4 linked regions of the Homo sapiens genome follow. The protein of the gene in region 4 purifies or fractionates together with the protein of the main gene of each other region. This does not show direct contact. Each region holds a gene or a part of one and is shown on either strand. Other genes may lie near its edges.

What was found. The genes of interacting proteins can lie anywhere in the genome.
Region 1: the proteins of SEC22C (region 4) and IL1RN purify together in Homo sapiens (affinity purification with mass spectrometry; 3 studies listed by BioGRID and IntAct, with this or other methods). This does not show direct contact.
Region 2: the proteins of SEC22C (region 4) and HK3 purify together in Homo sapiens (affinity purification with mass spectrometry; 2 studies listed by BioGRID and IntAct, with this or other methods). This does not show direct contact.
Region 3: the proteins of SEC22C (region 4) and ACADS purify together in Homo sapiens (affinity purification with mass spectrometry; 3 studies listed by BioGRID and IntAct, with this or other methods). This does not show direct contact.

The regions. Positions count from the first base shown.
Region 1 is NC_000002.12:113,130,598-113,134,514, forward strand, and holds the end of IL1RN (interleukin-1 receptor antagonist protein isoform 1 precursor), read left to right. Parts: intron 1-447; coding exon 448-560; intron 561-2,058; coding exon 2,059-2,274; 3' UTR 2,275-3,417; downstream 3,418-3,917. UniProt on the Homo sapiens protein: Anti-inflammatory antagonist of interleukin-1 family of proinflammatory cytokines such as interleukin-1beta/IL1B and interleukin-1alpha/IL1A.
Region 2 is NC_000005.10:176,882,347-176,885,846, forward strand, and holds part of HK3 (hexokinase-3), read right to left. Parts: coding exon of another isoform or gene 3,480-3,500; exon of another isoform or gene 3,465-3,479; intron 2,472-3,464; exon of another isoform or gene 2,398-2,471; intron 1,789-2,397; coding exon 1,693-1,788; intron 1,524-1,692; coding exon 1,424-1,523; intron 1-1,423. UniProt on the Homo sapiens protein: Catalyzes the phosphorylation of hexose, such as D-glucose and D-fructose, to hexose 6-phosphate (D-glucose 6-phosphate and D-fructose 6-phosphate, respectively).
Region 3 is NC_000012.12:120,724,453-120,728,625, forward strand, and holds the start of ACADS (short-chain specific acyl-CoA dehydrogenase, mitochondrial isoform 1 precursor), read left to right. Parts: upstream 1-1,373; 5' UTR 1,374-1,433; coding exon 1,434-1,479; intron 1,480-2,573; coding exon 2,574-2,737; intron 2,738-4,173. UniProt on the Homo sapiens protein: Short-chain specific acyl-CoA dehydrogenase is one of the acyl-CoA dehydrogenases that catalyze the first step of mitochondrial fatty acid beta-oxidation, an aerobic process breaking down fatty acids into acetyl-CoA and allowing the production of energy from fats.
Region 4 is NC_000003.12:42,579,168-42,583,396, reverse strand, and holds the start of SEC22C (vesicle-trafficking protein SEC22c), read left to right. Parts: upstream 1-1,429; 5' UTR 1,430-1,551; exon of another isoform or gene 1,552-1,557; intron 1,558-2,918; exon of another isoform or gene 2,919-2,954; intron 2,955-4,229. UniProt on the Homo sapiens protein: May be involved in vesicle transport between the ER and the Golgi complex.

The sequences.
Region 1 (3,917 bases), on a different chromosome or scaffold from region 4:
GTAACTGGGTAGTGTGCATCCTGGGGAAAGTGAGGGAAATATGGACATCACATGGAACAACATCCAGGAGACTCAGGCCTCTAGGAGTAACTGGGTAGTGTGCATCCTGGGGAAAGTGAGGGAAATATGGACATCACATGGAACAACATCCAGGAGACTCAGGCCTCTAGGAGTAACTGGGTAGTGTGCATCCTGGGGAAAGTGAGGGAAATATGGACATCACATGGAACAACATCCAGGAGACTCAGGCCTCTAGGAGTAACTGGGTAGTGTGCTTGGTTTAATCTTCTATTTACCTGCAGACCAGGAAGATGAGACCTCTCTGCCCTTCTGACCTCGGGATTTTAGTTTTGTGGGGACCAGGGGAGATAGAAAAATACCCGGGGTCTCTTCATTATTGCTGCTTCCTCTTCTATTAACCTGACCCTCCCCTCTGTTCTTCCCCAGAAAAGATAGATGTGGTACCCATTGAGCCTCATGCTCTGTTCTTGGGAATCCATGGAGGGAAGATGTGCCTGTCCTGTGTCAAGTCTGGTGATGAGACCAGACTCCAGCTGGAGGTAAAAACATGCTTTGGATCTCAAATCACCCCAAAACCCAGTGGCTTGAAACAACCAAAATTTTTTCTTATGATTCTGTGGGTTGACCAGGATTAGCTGGGTAGTTCTGTTCCATGTGGTGGAACATGCTGGGGTCACTTTGGAAGCTGCATTCAGCAGAGTGCCTGGCTTGCGCTGGGCATCCAAGGTGGTCCCTCATCCTCCAGGCTCTCTTTCCATGTGATCTCTCAGTGTTTAAGAGTTAGTTGGAGCTTCCTTACAGCATGGCGGCTGACTTCCAAAAGGGATTATTCCAAAAAGAGCCTCAACATGCAGGCGCTTATTATGACTTCTGCTTGCATCATCCTATTGGCCAAAGCCAGTCACGTGGCTAAGTCTAGCCCCCTGTGAGAGGAGACTGCATAAGAGTGTGAACACCAGGAGACACGGTCACTGGGGGCCACCACTGTAACCATCTACCACAGGACCTGAATCTCTGTGTGCTACTCCCTTGCTCAAGGGCCCCCCTACCCACGCAGACCTGCTGTCTTCTAGCAAAGCCCATCCTCAGGACCTTTCTCTTCCAATCCTTATTGACTCAAATTGATTAGTTGGTGCTCCACCCAGAGCCCTGTGCTCCTTTATCTCATGTAATGTTAATGGGTTTCCCAGCCCTGGGAAAACATGGCTTTGTCTCAGGGGCTTGCTGGATGCAAGCTTAACCTCAATGTGAGTGGCCATACTGTGGCACTGTCCCATCCCTCACCAGGGACACTGTTCTGGAGGGTGACTGCCTGTTCTGTGAGGAGTGGGGATGGCTAGGACATTGCATGGAACACACCACCACCCCATCTTCTCAGAGCTCAAACCCTGACAGAACACCAGCTCCACAGGCCTTGGCTTCTGCTGATGGTGCCGTGTATTTACCAGACTTAGTGGTCCAAGGCCAGAGTGGCCAGATTTCCCAAAGTCAAGGTGTGACAGTGGGACAGCCTCTTTGTGTCTTTGCTGTCCTAAGAAACCTGGGCCAGGCCAGGCGCAGTGGCTCACGCCTGTAATCCCAGCACTTTGAGAAGCCAAGGTGGGCAGATCACGAGGTCAGGAGTTTGAGACCAGCCTGGCCAACATGGTGAAACCCTGTCTCTATTAAAAATAGAAAACATTAGACAGGTGTGGTGGTGCATGCCTGTAATCCCAGCTACTCAGGAGGCTGAGGCAGGAGAATCGCTTGAACCCAGGAGGTGGAGGTTGCAGTGAGCCGAGATTGTGCCACTGCACTCCAGCCTAGGCGACAGAGCAAGACTCCGTCTCGGGAAAATTAATTAATAAATAAATAAACCTAGGTCCCAGAGTCCCACAGAATGGCAGACAGGAGCACCTGGGGGCTTTTAGGGTATGGCATTTCCCCTGTACTAACTCTGGGCTGTCCAGAGGGCCATTTCATGGCGTGGAGTGGAGAGGGAGGCAGCACAGGACTTCCTAGGCCTCAGCTCTCACCTGCCCATCTTTTGATTTCCAGGCAGTTAACATCACTGACCTGAGCGAGAACAGAAAGCAGGACAAGCGCTTCGCCTTCATCCGCTCAGACAGTGGCCCCACCACCAGTTTTGAGTCTGCCGCCTGCCCCGGTTGGTTCCTCTGCACAGCGATGGAAGCTGACCAGCCCGTCAGCCTCACCAATATGCCTGACGAAGGCGTCATGGTCACCAAATTCTACTTCCAGGAGGACGAGTAGTACTGCCCAGGCCTGCCTGTTCCCATTCTTGCATGGCAAGGACTGCAGGGACTGCCAGTCCCCCTGCCCCAGGGCTCCCGGCTATGGGGGCACTGAGGACCAGCCATTGAGGGGTGGACCCTCAGAAGGCGTCACAACAACCTGGTCACAGGACTCTGCCTCCTCTTCAACTGACCAGCCTCCATGCTGCCTCCAGAATGGTCTTTCTAATGTGTGAATCAGAGCACAGCAGCCCCTGCACAAAGCCCTTCCATGTCGCCTCTGCATTCAGGATCAAACCCCGACCACCTGCCCAACCTGCTCTCCTCTTGCCACTGCCTCTTCCTCCCTCATTCCACCTTCCCATGCCCTGGATCCATCAGGCCACTTGATGACCCCCAACCAAGTGGCTCCCACACCCTGTTTTACAAAAAAGAAAAGACCAGTCCATGAGGGAGGTTTTTAAGGGTTTGTGGAAAATGAAAATTAGGATTTCATGATTTTTTTTTTTCAGTCCCCGTGAAGGAGAGCCCTTCATTTGGAGATTATGTTCTTTCGGGGAGAGGCTGAGGACTTAAAATATTCCTGCATTTGTGAAATGATGGTGAAAGTAAGTGGTAGCTTTTCCCTTCTTTTTCTTCTTTTTTTGTGATGTCCCAACTTGTAAAAATTAAAAGTTATGGTACTATGTTAGCCCCATAATTTTTTTTTTCCTTTTAAAACACTTCCATAATCTGGACTCCTCTGTCCAGGCACTGCTGCCCAGCCTCCAAGCTCCATCTCCACTCCAGATTTTTTACAGCTGCCTGCAGTACTTTACCTCCTATCAGAAGTTTCTCAGCTCCCAAGGCTCTGAGCAAATGTGGCTCCTGGGGGTTCTTTCTTCCTCTGCTGAAGGAATAAATTGCTCCTTGACATTGTAGAGCTTCTGGCACTTGGAGACTTGTATGAAAGATGGCTGTGCCTCTGCCTGTCTCCCCCACCGGGCTGGGAGCTCTGCAGAGCAGGAAACATGACTCGTATATGTCTCAGGTCCCTGCAGGGCCAAGCACCTAGCCTCGCTCTTGGCAGGTACTCAGCGAATGAATGCTGTATATGTTGGGTGCAAAGTTCCCTACTTCCTGTGACTTCAGCTCTGTTTTACAATAAAATCTTGAAAATGCCTATATTGTTGACTATGTCCTTGGCCTTGACAGGCTTTGGGTATAGAGTGCTGAGGAAACTGAAAGACCAATGTGTCTTTCTTACCCCAGAGGCTGGCGCCTGGCCTCTTCTCTGAGAGTTCTTTTCTTCCTTCAGCCTCACTCTCCCTGGATAACATGAGAGCAAATCTCTCTGCAAAAAAGATATGGGGCAGCACTGTCCACAACAGCCTCTGCTGGAAACAACCCAAGCACCCATCACAGAATGAATTAGTACATCATGTATCTGCACACAACACAGTGCTCCTTGGCAAAGAAAATGAATGAATTACAGCCAGCTGCACCTCACAAGACAGATAATCTTACAAACATCATGTGGGTACAAGAATCACAAAAGCATGCATAGAGTGTGATTCCATTTCTACAAAGTTCAAAACGGGCAACATGGGGCTGTTGTGTGGAGGGCTGTGGAAACAGGTGGTGCAGAGAGAAGCAAGGCCATGCTCTGTCTGAAGGCCCAGT
Region 2 (3,500 bases), on a different chromosome or scaffold from region 4:
CACCATCAGTGCATCCACCATGCCACCCCCAAGTGCTCCTACAATGCCCAGCTGTCCTGTCATTCCCCTGGGAGACATGTGACATCCCCCGCCCTCGCCCCTAGCTCTCTGCGGTTGAGAGGCCGAAGCTCCCTGGACCGGCCTGCCAGGCCCTTAATCCAACTAAGAGGTGCTGGGCCAAGAGCAGGGGACACAGAGAAATCAGAGACGAGGAGCCCCACAGTCTGGCCAGAGGTCAGGCAATGAATAGCCAGCTCTGACAGAGCCTCTGTGCCCCCGTGGAAGCACCAAGGAGAGCATCGTGGGAGCCCAGACCACGGGGCGAGTCTCTGCCAACAGGATCAGGAAAGCAACAGAGAGGAAGTGACTGAATCCAAGAAGCACAGAAAGAAAAAGGCATTCCAGGCAGAGGACGCACCCTGGATGAGGGCGTCTCCTTCCTTTCTCTGACACAGCTTCAGCTCCAGGAAGGTGGGCTCCTTGCTGGCCCCACCTGGAGCTCCTCTGTCCAGCTGTTTATGCACACAGCAACCTGGGCATGCCTCTCCCAAGTGCCTAACCGTGCCAGGTGCTGGGTTCAAAAACCTCCCCCTCAAGAGAGGCTGCCACATGCCTCGTGTTGAGAGACCAATGCCCCAGGAGCTGTGGGATCCCTCCTCCCCAACAGAGCCAAATCCTTTCTTTCAGGGCTTTCAAGTTCCACTCATCCTGGGACCCACTCCTTCCTGATCTTGGCCTCGCTGCTGCCCACGTGTAGAATCAAGTCACTCTCTGACCGCTACGTGTTGTTCTGGGCTTAACCCTTGCTGAGTGGTCGGTTCTGAGAAGGCAGAAATTGCCTCTTGTTTTATGTGTCTTCCTATTCCTCTGTCCAGTCCCCTGTGGACACAGGGTAGGTGCTTAATAAGGATGGAATCTTGGACTGTCTGAAGGACCCTCATTGCTCATTGGTCCCCTGCCCCCGCCCAGCTCCAAACACCAGGTGTGTACCATGAGCCAGGGACCATGCTGTATTTTGTCCCCTCCCATTTCATCCTCATGATGCCTTGAGACAGGCATTGTTACTCTTATCTCCATCTTAGAGATGAGGAAACTGAGGCTCTGGTGACTTGCCCAAGGTCATACAGGTGGAAACACAAAGCTAGTATTTCCACCCAAATCTGTACAACTCCAAAGCTCAGATTCATTTATCAGATGGGCAAAGTGAAGTTCAGAGAGCTTAAATGACCATGAGTCAGTCACTGAGCTGGACTATACACCCAAGCTCCAAACTGCCAGCCCAAGAGATTGTTCCAGAGCCCTACTGGGTCAGACCAGAGCAATCCCACATCCCCACCGCCAAGGAAACATCCAACCAGAGGAATCAACAGAAGGCAGCAAATTGCCAAGCAGTAGGGGCATGAAAGGGCAGGGCCCTCCTCACCGACAATGAGGCCTATCTCGCAACGGGGGTCCTCATAGCCACAGGACATCATGGTCCCCACCGTGTCATTGACAATGGCAACCACATTCAGCTCCACTGCCTGCACACAAAAGGATGCTGCTAGTTGCTGGGCAACGCGGTCGTCACAGCAACCAGCACTGGACCCAGAGGTCTCTACCGCAGAGGGCTCCCCCCTCAGAAAGTAGGAGACTCTTTGCTCCCCTCAAGGCCTGCCACAGCCCCAAAGCACCCCTAGAACAGGCTCCTACCTGTCTGCGAGTGATGGCTTCCCGCAACAGACTCACGACATCTTGGCCCTCGCAGTCTGATGCCTTGAAACCCTTGGTCCAGTTCAGGAGGATGCCCTGGGGTGAGACCGAGAGGAAGTGGCAGGAAGCTGGAGGCCCCTTCAGGCTCACTCTGCCTCTGCAAAACCTGCATCCATCACAAGCCTAGGCTTTCCACCCTCCCCAAGCACAATTCCTTGCCTACTTTGCTGTATGGTTGAAGGCCTTGCCCTCTGCCCGCTCCCTACTCCCCAGGAGGCTTTCGGTGTGCAAAAACCTATTAATAACCATCTAACCTACATTTTCCATTATTAGTTCCAGACAGTCAGAGGGTCTGGCCATTTTAAGACGTGTGCCCGGAAGGAATGGCCCTTTGTAATTGGGTTAGGAATTAACAGAGCTGGTAAAGTGAGTGCTGTGTGTGAGACAGGGGAGGACAGAGAAGGCTCAGAGGCCCAGATGACAGCAGATCCCACCCTTTCAGAAAGAACTCCAAGTTACTCTAGAGGAAGGAATTCTCAGCTTCAGGGATAGAGCCGTGTCAATGGGCGAGTCACTCATGTGTTCCAAATGCAGGGGCAGGAGGAATGGAAAAGCCAGAACCCAGGCCCCTGGGCAGGATGAAGGCTGAGTGCCCAGATTGTGAGAAAAGGGACTTAAACTTAGTGACACGGGGCTCAACTTTACCTGGAAAGGAATGCTGTTTTCTTAGTGTGCGTCCTCTGAGGGAGGGGGCAGGGGGAGCAGGAATTAGTCTACAGCTGTTGGGAGAAAATTACTGCTTTGCTCAGAGGAGGAGCATGGAGGGTAGGTCAGGAAATCTTTGGGGCAGAAGATTTTAGAAATAGTAAGCAACGTTTTCCTCCAATAATATGTCCTTTTATCCCGTTTTTTATTGTCCTAGGCTCATTGTCTCAAAAACAGAAAGCAGAGAATGTGATAGAGTGAGAGAAAGAACCCGTTTGAGAGAGACCAGATGATGAGTAAGAGCCCTGTGTGGGCTGCTCTCCCTAGAGTGGGGAAGGGGAGGCAAAGGGGGAAGTCAGACCCAGGTTGCTGATGACTTCCTGAGACAGGTGTCCTATGCCCTCCCCACTGGGCTGAACCCCTGTTCAGAAGGGATCTGAGAAATCTGAGAACAGAGGAGGCCTCTGCCCTCCTTCCCCAGATAATGCACAGGAAGGTGTCGAGACTCAAGAGAGGAAGTGGCAGAGGCAAGTGCCCAAAGAGCAGGGCCCGGGGCACCTCCCTGAGTTCCCACATCCCTGCAAATTCTGCACAGCAAAGGCTGCTGCAGAGCCAAAGGGGCTCCTGGGGAAGGCAATCCCCACACTGGTTAAGTTTTCACCCCTGAAAATAATGTGGGCCCAACATTTTTTTTTTAAGATGGAGTCTTGCTCTGTTGCCCAGGCTGGAGTGCAATGGCACAATCTCAGCTCACTGCAACCTCTGCCTCCCGGGTTCAAGTGATTCTCCTGCCTCAGCCTCCCGAGTAGCTGGAATTACAGGCACACACTGCCACGCCCGGCTAATTTTTGTATTTTTAGTAGAGATGGGGTTTCAGCATCTTGGCCAGGCTGGTCTTGAAATCCTGATCTCATGATTCACCCGTCTCAGACTCTCAAAGTGCTGGGATTACAAGCGTGAGCCACCGCGCCCAGCCTTCAGCACAGAAATTAAGTTCAGTTACAGAAAATTAATAAGACTATATTTCTTGCCCCCACCCCGCCCCCCGATTTGCACATGGAGTCTCACCTGCTTCTCACATCTTACAAGGAATAATCAAAAGG
Region 3 (4,173 bases), on a different chromosome or scaffold from region 4:
ATTTACAGTCACAAATTCTCAAGAGTCTGGTTTAGATGCTCTGTGGCACCTGAAGCAATTATTGGCCTTTGCTCACAAACACAACTCACTTATTTCTCCCTTTTCTCCTGCTTCTTCATCGTTTCTTCCACCCAGGGCTGGTTCCCAGGTGGGATGACGGAAAGGTGAGGAAGCCCTTAGAGCATTTGCCAATGGGAGCCATTCATTTGACTTTAAAGTACTGAGAATTTAGAGGCGTTCTTTTAAATGCATTATTTAAAAAGAAAGGTAACACATTAAGGACTTTGCTGCATCTTTTGATTGGCTTTCTTCTAGGAAGTAGTGACCGAGGTTTCCACTTTCCTCCAAGAGGAAGAGACAGAAGTTTTGGCAAATAGGTCAATGCTGGGAACAGATGCCTGCCTGGCTGAGTGCTGGGAAAGAAAGGCAGTTGGAGGGATGTGTGGGTGCCTGGGAGGGCGTGGGTGGTGCCCAGGAGGCTATGGGAATCAGAATCACACTTGCACAAGAGAAGACCCTTATGGGACAAGTAAAATCAGCATAGTTTCTTGGGCGGGGCAAAGGTGTCCTGATGAGGATGCTAGGGGTCAAATATGTGTCTGGGTTCTGCCCCAATCGGGAATGAGACACAGTACTGAAGTGGAACGGGGGTAGCATCTCCACCCACCTTCACAGCCTCTGGGGAAAAGAAAGCTTTCCTTGCAGCCCAACTCCAGGGGCCTAAATATTGAGCACCAACACAAGACAGGTCCTTGAGCTTCTCGGAGCGAGTCGGGGAAGCAGATAATTTCAGATGCAAAGTGCCTTGAATAAACAGAACGAAAGATAGAGAGCCAGAGGGGGAGAAACGGCTTGGTGTGGTCAGGGCAGGCATCCATGAGACCTAAACGAAGAGGGGGCATTCCAGACAAAAGGAACAGTGATCACAGAGGCCCCGAGTCAGGAACCAGCTAAGGGTCTTAGAGAAGAGCTGCCTCGTAAAGCTAAGCAACAATAACCAGGGAACGGTGGGCATGGGCCCTGATAGACAAGGCAGGTCTTGGCTTTTTAAGCCATAGAATTGGATTTTAGGAGGGATGGGCCCGCCGACAAAGCCAACAAAGTTTTAACCCGAAGATCGCTATCTTATTTATGCTTTAAAAAGACCTCTCTGGCCTTTCTGCGAAGCTCTATCCTTAGCTTTCTCTTGTTAGCATTTTGATTAACGAATGTGGGCACGAACAGCCAGCTGACCGACCGCGCGCGCAGTCGAGCGTCGGTTCCTCGCCTTGGGAGGGACCACTGGAGGCCCCGCCCCCTGGCCGCGAGCGCACCTCGGCCCCGCTCCCGAGGCCCTACGGGCGTGGCCTCTGTCCCGGGTCCCGCCCCCCAGCACTCCGGAACAGCGCGCTCGCAGCGGGAGGTCGCGAAGCCTGGGACTGTGTCTGTCGCCCATGGCCGCCGCGCTGCTCGCCCGGGCCTCGGGCCCTGCCCGCAGAGGTGAGTGCGCTGGGGATCCGTACGGCGGGGCTTCAGCCCGCGTCTGGCCCAGCGGGCGGAGGTCCTGGCGGCCGGCTCTGTCAGAGCCGCTGGCAGGCGGAGCCCCACTCCGGGAGCGCTCACGGCCTTTGCCCCAGTTCTGCTGCTCCTTGCGCCGACCCAGCCCGGCCCTTCAGGCGTCCCTGGTTCCTGCACAGACCCCTACCCCCCGATTGACCCCAGCCACCAGCCCAGTTCCCAGTTCCCATATCTCCCTCCCTTCATTTCACCCCCACTAGAGGTTCAGGGTGCGTCCTTCTTCCGGAGCCAGGCCTGGGATTGAACCAGACCCGCATCTGTGACCTTGGGCAAGACAGCCCCTCCTCAGCCTCGGTTGGCCCATGTGTAAAATGTCCACAGAGAAAATCAGAGTTGTTGGGAGGATTAAATCATAGGGTATGTAAAGCACTTCGTGCCTGGCGTGTAACAGGTGTTCCACAAATGCTCGTTCTTGCTGGTTAATACAGTACCTTTCCCATCTTACGTGTCTCCAGTTGTAGCAGCCGTGACACATATAGCCACGGCTTCCTTTGCCTGGCCTGAATTACAAGGGGAACGCTACTGAGAACTGTGTTAAGCGCTAGTTAGTCTTTCTTTCGCACTCCGAGGAGCGGAATACTATTCGCCTCCACTTGTTATAGAAACGGAGGCTCACTGACGTTTAAAACCCTTGCCTAAGGTCACAGAGCTGAGGTCTTATTACTGTTGGTATTATACTGAGGACTGAAGGATGTAGTGTATGGAAATGTCTAGTGAGTGTACTAAGCATTCAGTTAGTATGGGGTTTTCAGTGGCCGCCATGGACATTTTGGGCTGACAGTTCTTTGTTGTGGGGGCTGTCCTCTGCCTTGTTGGATGTTCAGCAGGGATCCCGGACCCCTATCCACTGGGTACCAATAGTATTCCCCTGCTCTAGTTGTGACAACTAGAACTGGCTCCAGACATTGCCAGATGTCCCTTGGAGGGCAAAATCCTCCCTGGTGAGTTAGTGGGTCACTAGGATTCTTGGAGACCTCCTGCCTCCTCCTTCCACTCACTTCTGCCCTTGCCGGCAGCTCTCTGTCCTAGGGCCTGGCGGCAGTTACACACCATCTACCAGTCTGTGGAACTGCCCGAGACACACCAGATGTTGCTCCAGACATGCCGGGACTTTGCCGAGAAGGAGTTGTTTCCCATTGCAGCCCAGGTGGATAAGGAACATCTCTTCCCAGCGGCTCAGGTGAGAGTGCAACCTCAGCAGCCCACGATAGTGGTCTGCCCTCTGCTACTGGATGAATGGTGGCAGTGACAGTCAGCGGCACTCGGACTCTGGTAGAGGAACCCCAAAGCAGGGCCTGGAACCCAGAAAATGCTCTGGAAGTTTCCCTTGTCCAGCCTGTGGCCAGTAGCCAGGACTTAACTTCTGGGACAACAGTAATATGTGGTGGATGGTCAGTTGCTTACTGTGCCAGCCACTGTGCTCATTCTAAATAGTGCCTTTAGGGTGTTTGGCATGCACTAGGCACTGTTCTTGAGATGGGTTATCTCATCTGTTCCTCACAACGGTCCTGTGAGGTGAAGGTACTATTCTTATTTATTTTTTTGAGACGGAGTTTCACTCTTGTGGCTCAGGCTGGAGTGCAATGGTGCGACCTCGCCTCACTGCAGCCTCTGCCTCCTGAGTTCAAGTGATTCTCCTGCCTCAGCCTCCCAAGTAGCTGGGATTATAGGCGTGCACTGCTCTGCCCCGCTACTTTTGTATTTTTAGTAAAGACGGCGTTTCACCATGTTGGCCAGGCTGGTCTCAAACTCCTGAATTCAGGTGATCTGCCCACCTCGGCCTCCCAAAGTGCTGGGATTACAGGTGTGAGACACCACGCCCGGCCAAAGGTAGTATTATTATATACCCCATGGACTCAGACTTGTGAACAAGTTAAATAACATACCCAAGGTCATGGAGCTCATCAGCGGCAGCCTGCTCGACCTATTTTCTTTTTTATTTACTTATTTTTTTTTGAAATGGACTCTCGCTCTGTTGCCCAGGCTGGAGGGCAGTGGCGCAATCTCAACGCACTGCACCCCTCTGCCTCCTGGGTTCAAGCAATTCTCCTGCCTCGGCCCCCAGTAGCTGGGATTACAGGCGGGCACCACCACGCCCAGCTAGTTTTTGTACTTTCAGTAGAGATGGGGTTTCTCCATGTTGGGCAGGCTGGTCTCAAACTCCTGACCTTAGGCGATCTGCCCGCCTTGGCGTCCCAAAGTGCTGGGATTACAGGCGTGAGCCACCGTGCCCGGCCTGCTTGAACTGTTTTCTCCCCTGAGTTTCCCATCAGCGCGCTCCCTCCCGTGCCACTGTGTTCTTCCATTTGCATTCAGTCTGTCTGCAGCTACGCGTTGAAGATGTTACTGCCGTACACGCTGACCTAAAGATGTCCAGCACCTGGTGTAAACACTCAGTAGTAGATAGTTGTTTAATTAATGATTTGTGAAAAGTCAAACCTCTCCGGCCTCTTCTCCTTGCCTGTTTTTTTTTTTAATTTTAATTTTAATTTATTTTTTATTTTTAAAAATTTTTTGAGACAGTCTTGCTCTGTCACCAGGTTGGAGTGCAGTGGCGCGATCTCGGCTCACTGCAACCTCCGCCTTCTGAGTTCAAACAATTGTTTCCTGCCTCAG
Region 4 (4,229 bases):
TGCTTCATCGCCCCTTCACATCCAACTCATCACCAAGTCCTATTGATTTTGCTCCTACATTTCTCTGCAGCCTTCTTAGATCTCTTTTTCTTCACTCTCACCCTAGTCCACACTCCAGCTCCATTCTCTCTTGCCCAGATGACTGCACTGGCTCCCAGGCCAGTCCCACCATAGCTCTGTTGAGACTTCTCCATTTTGATCTGCACTTTAGCAGCCAAAGTGAGTTTTATAAAATGCAATTTTGACCAGTGTTCTATGGTCCTAAACTTTCCACTATGGTCCATAAAATCCTACATGGTCCTGCCCCTTCTATTCGCTCTAGTGGATCTCACTCCACTCCTTTATTCTCTAAACTCTGAGTTTCTTTTCTTTTTGTGGTAAAATGTACATAACCATTTTTAAGTGTGCAGATCTGTGGCATTTGGTACATTCACATTGTTGTGTGATCATCACTACTATCCATTTCCAGAACTGTTTCATCTTCTCCAGCTGAAATTCTGTACCTATTAAGCACTAACTTTCCATTTCCCCCTTTCTGGGTTTCTTTTCATCCCTCAAAGGAGCTCTGCTGCCTTCCACAGAGTTCTTATATACATGCTAATCTCTCCATCTGAAACACACTTCCTCTCCCCTTTGCCTAGTTAGCCTCCTGTGATTCCCAACACCAGCCTAGAAGCTTCTGTAAATTCTCCCAAAACCCCTGCTCCTCCCTGAAGAGCAGTTTGTATTTATACAGGTGTTTGATTGTTTGAAGGGTGCTCTCACCCTGCCTCCTCTCTTAACATAGTTTTTCGTGTCAGGAATTCCTCGCTTTGTCCACAACCCCTGGCACATAGCAGGTGCTCAATACTTGCTAAATGAATAAATGGACGGACTCTGCTACCTACCTAATCTCCTTCCAGCCAGTCATCCATCTGTGGGTGCCTCGGTCCCCAGCTTGGGGTGTGTCCCCCTGGGTCGGACTTTGGCGCCCCATCCAGGCTGGCAGTAGGTTGTGCTCTTTGGTTTGCCTATCTCGGGCCTCCCGCCCAGCCGCGCGGACCGCAGAACATACGCCCCGGGCGTTATCACTCTGTCACGCGGAGCCTCCCCGCCTCCAGACGTCAGTCCGGTTGCTACCCCGGCAGGAATCGAGCTTAGATCACGAAGGCTCCTTCTCACCTCCGGACGTGAGAATTACAGGCTTGGATCTCAAACCGCCGCGGTGAGAGCCGGGAGGTGGGAAGAAAGTTGGGAGGCGCGCGCCCCCGTCACACTCCCTCTCCGTTTGGGTCGCAGCCCTTTAAGAACCACTACGTTCGCGCCTTCGCCGGGACGGGGGCTGTGGAGGCGCGCCGGGATTGGTCGGTTTGGGTGCGGGTGTCGCTTAGCAGCAGCGAATGCGGGGTAGGGGGGAGGTGGGGTGGCTCAAGACTCGCGCACGCGCACCACGGCCTACCTGCGCCTGGGCTGCCGGTGACCTGGGCCGAGCCCTCCCGGTCGGCTAAGATTGCTGAGGAGGCGGCGGGTAGCTGGCAGGCGCCGACTTCCGAAGGCCGCCGTCCGGGCGAGGTGAGGGCTGGCGGGCGGAGGCGGGTGCCGCGGCCCGTTAGCCAAGAGCAGGCGGGTTAGGGTGTGGCGCAGGGCGGGCCCAGAGGTGGAGGCGGCCCAGGGCCCACCCGGCCCTCAGTCCCGGCCTTGACCATGGGGCTCCCCACGGGGCTTCACTGGGCTTCTTGGAGTCCTCTGTCCCCTTTCTCCCGTCAGCCTGTTCCCGGACCCCGGGGCCACCCAAGGCACGCGCCTGCAGGAACCCTGGGCTGACAGATGGGCGCCAAGGGCTTCTCCCAGTTGGAAGAGATGGGGAGTGAGAAAGGGGACGATTGTTTCTTTAACCATTCACGAAGCTCACGTCAGAGCATTGTTTAATCTGAATAGCAAACTTCCCTTAGCATGCCCGTGTTATTAGACTTTAAATATTGGATACACTGAACCAACTTTTCAGAGCACTAGGTGTAGGACGTTCCATTACAGGTTTTGTGTTCATTACAGATTTACACATGTACCTCCAGAGCCAGAAGGATAAAGCACTCGGGGAAAAATTAGGTTTGTAGAAATAAAAGCCACGGAAGACTATTGCCAGTGTGAAAAGTAATTGGTGAAATTTGTGACATGGTCAGAAAAAAATACAGCTCAGAACCAACATATAGGGTAATATTTAATTACATTTTGCAGAGAAGAGTTGATCCCACTAAAGATAATTTTAGTAAAATGAAAAATGGAAGCAACTGGAAATGGTTTAACGTTGCCAGATAGAATTAAATAAACAAATAGTGTTTCCTCTGGAAAGTACATTTTGGACAATGTTAATAGCTCTGATTTAAGTGTTTGCATTTGCAACAGAAGCCATCTTGGAGTCAGTGTTTTTTATTCTTAGAATAACTTAGAAATCAACTAAATTCAAAAAGTAACATGATCATAGAGAGGACAACCTGACTTCAAGGTAATACAGTGGATAAAGAGCAGTTGTAACAAGTGTAATCTCAGGCTCCTTCCTCTACCAACAGGTCTCTGATTAGCTTATTAGTGCTCTAAGGAGAAGAAATTATTTTAGAGAAAGGGAGTAGCTGTAATTCCCAAAGTTGGATTTGTAGAAGAAGGATGTGGTGGAAAGATCCTAGGCTTTAGAATATTTGAAGTAAGGAAGTCTGGGTTGAATCTAGCTTTACCTCTTGAGCCTTACAGCTGCAGTTTTCCCACCTATCCGGTATAGATTATGTCTACCTTATAGTTACAAGCATTTAATAACATTATCAGTGTAAAAGGTCCTATCAAGTTTAGTTCCCTACCCCTCTTAGTTCCTAACAAATGACGAAACTGACCTCTACCCTCCTCTTCACTCCATCCCCAAGCAACTTGGAGCCTTAATAGAATCTACAGATTTGGTAACCAGTTCTCAAGTCCTGTGGCTGAAGGTGAATTCAGTAAGGGTGGCACAACTCAGTTTTGTCTTCTGTATTGTGTATTTGAGTCTTCTGTATTCTGTATATACTTTATGGTGAACACTTTGTGTTTGAATATTTGTGTGCCAAATGAAGCCTGTTTTGTCTAAATTCCTATTTTGCAAGGTGCAGTCATCTCTCTCTTTCTCTCTGTTTTTCTCTTTCTTTCTGTCTCTCTCAGCCTCTCTCTCTCTCAGTGCATGTGGTAGGGGCTTGAGGAGGGGTTAAGGGTAAAAGGTGGAAGAAAAAACAGGATCAAGGGTAGCCTGCAGCATAGGCATAAAGTCTTTGTTAATAGAACAGAGATAATCTATGACATGAGCAGTTTATAAACAGATGCTGGGAAGAAGATTTAGGAAATAAGGGAGGCAAATTAAAATATGTTTTTATAAAACCTAGTAACACGGATGCTGTGTATTTGATTACTACTTCACTCTACTTTTAGACAAATTTCATCTGTATAAACCTTTCTCTTTTTCTCTCCAAATACAGATTTATTGTGGAAAAGTGTTCAAACTGTAGATCAGAACTATGGCAAGGGATCTGTAAACCTGCATTTCTTGTTTCAGTGAGCAAAAATAAGGCAGCCCTTAGGTCATTCATTCATTTAACTTAGCAGTGTTTACTGAGTGCTTCCTAATATGTACCAGGCAAGGTGGTAGGTTATGACATCCACTGCCTTGTGGAAGGATCTGGTAAGATCTGGAAGACATTCCAGTGTCTCTTGTATGAACATTCTGAAGCTGCCTTTGTCCTTGTGGAATTGATTTTCTTTTCTTTTCTTTTTTCTTTTCTTTTTTTTTTTTTTGTTTTTTGAGACAGGGTCTCACTTTGTTGCCCAGGCTGGAGTGCGGTGATGCAGTCGCAGCTCACGCAGCCTTGACCTCCTGAGCTCAAGTGATCCTCCCACTTCAGACTCCCAAGTAGCTGGGACCACAGGTGTGTGCCACCATGCCTGGCTTTTTTTTTTTTTTTTTGTAGAGATGGGGTGTCATTGTGTTGCCCAGGCTGGTCTCAAATTCTTGGACTCAAGCAGTCCTCCCGCCTCAGCCTCCCAAAATGCTGGGATGACAGGTATGAGCCACCATGCTCAGCCTGCTTTCCTAGTTTTTTGTTTTGTTTTGTTTTGTTTTGTTTTGAGATGGAGTTTTGCTCTTGTTGCCCAGGCTGGAGTGTGATGGCACAATCTCAGCTGACTGCAACCTCTGCCTCCTGGGTTCAAGTGACTCTCCTGCCTCAGCCTTCTGA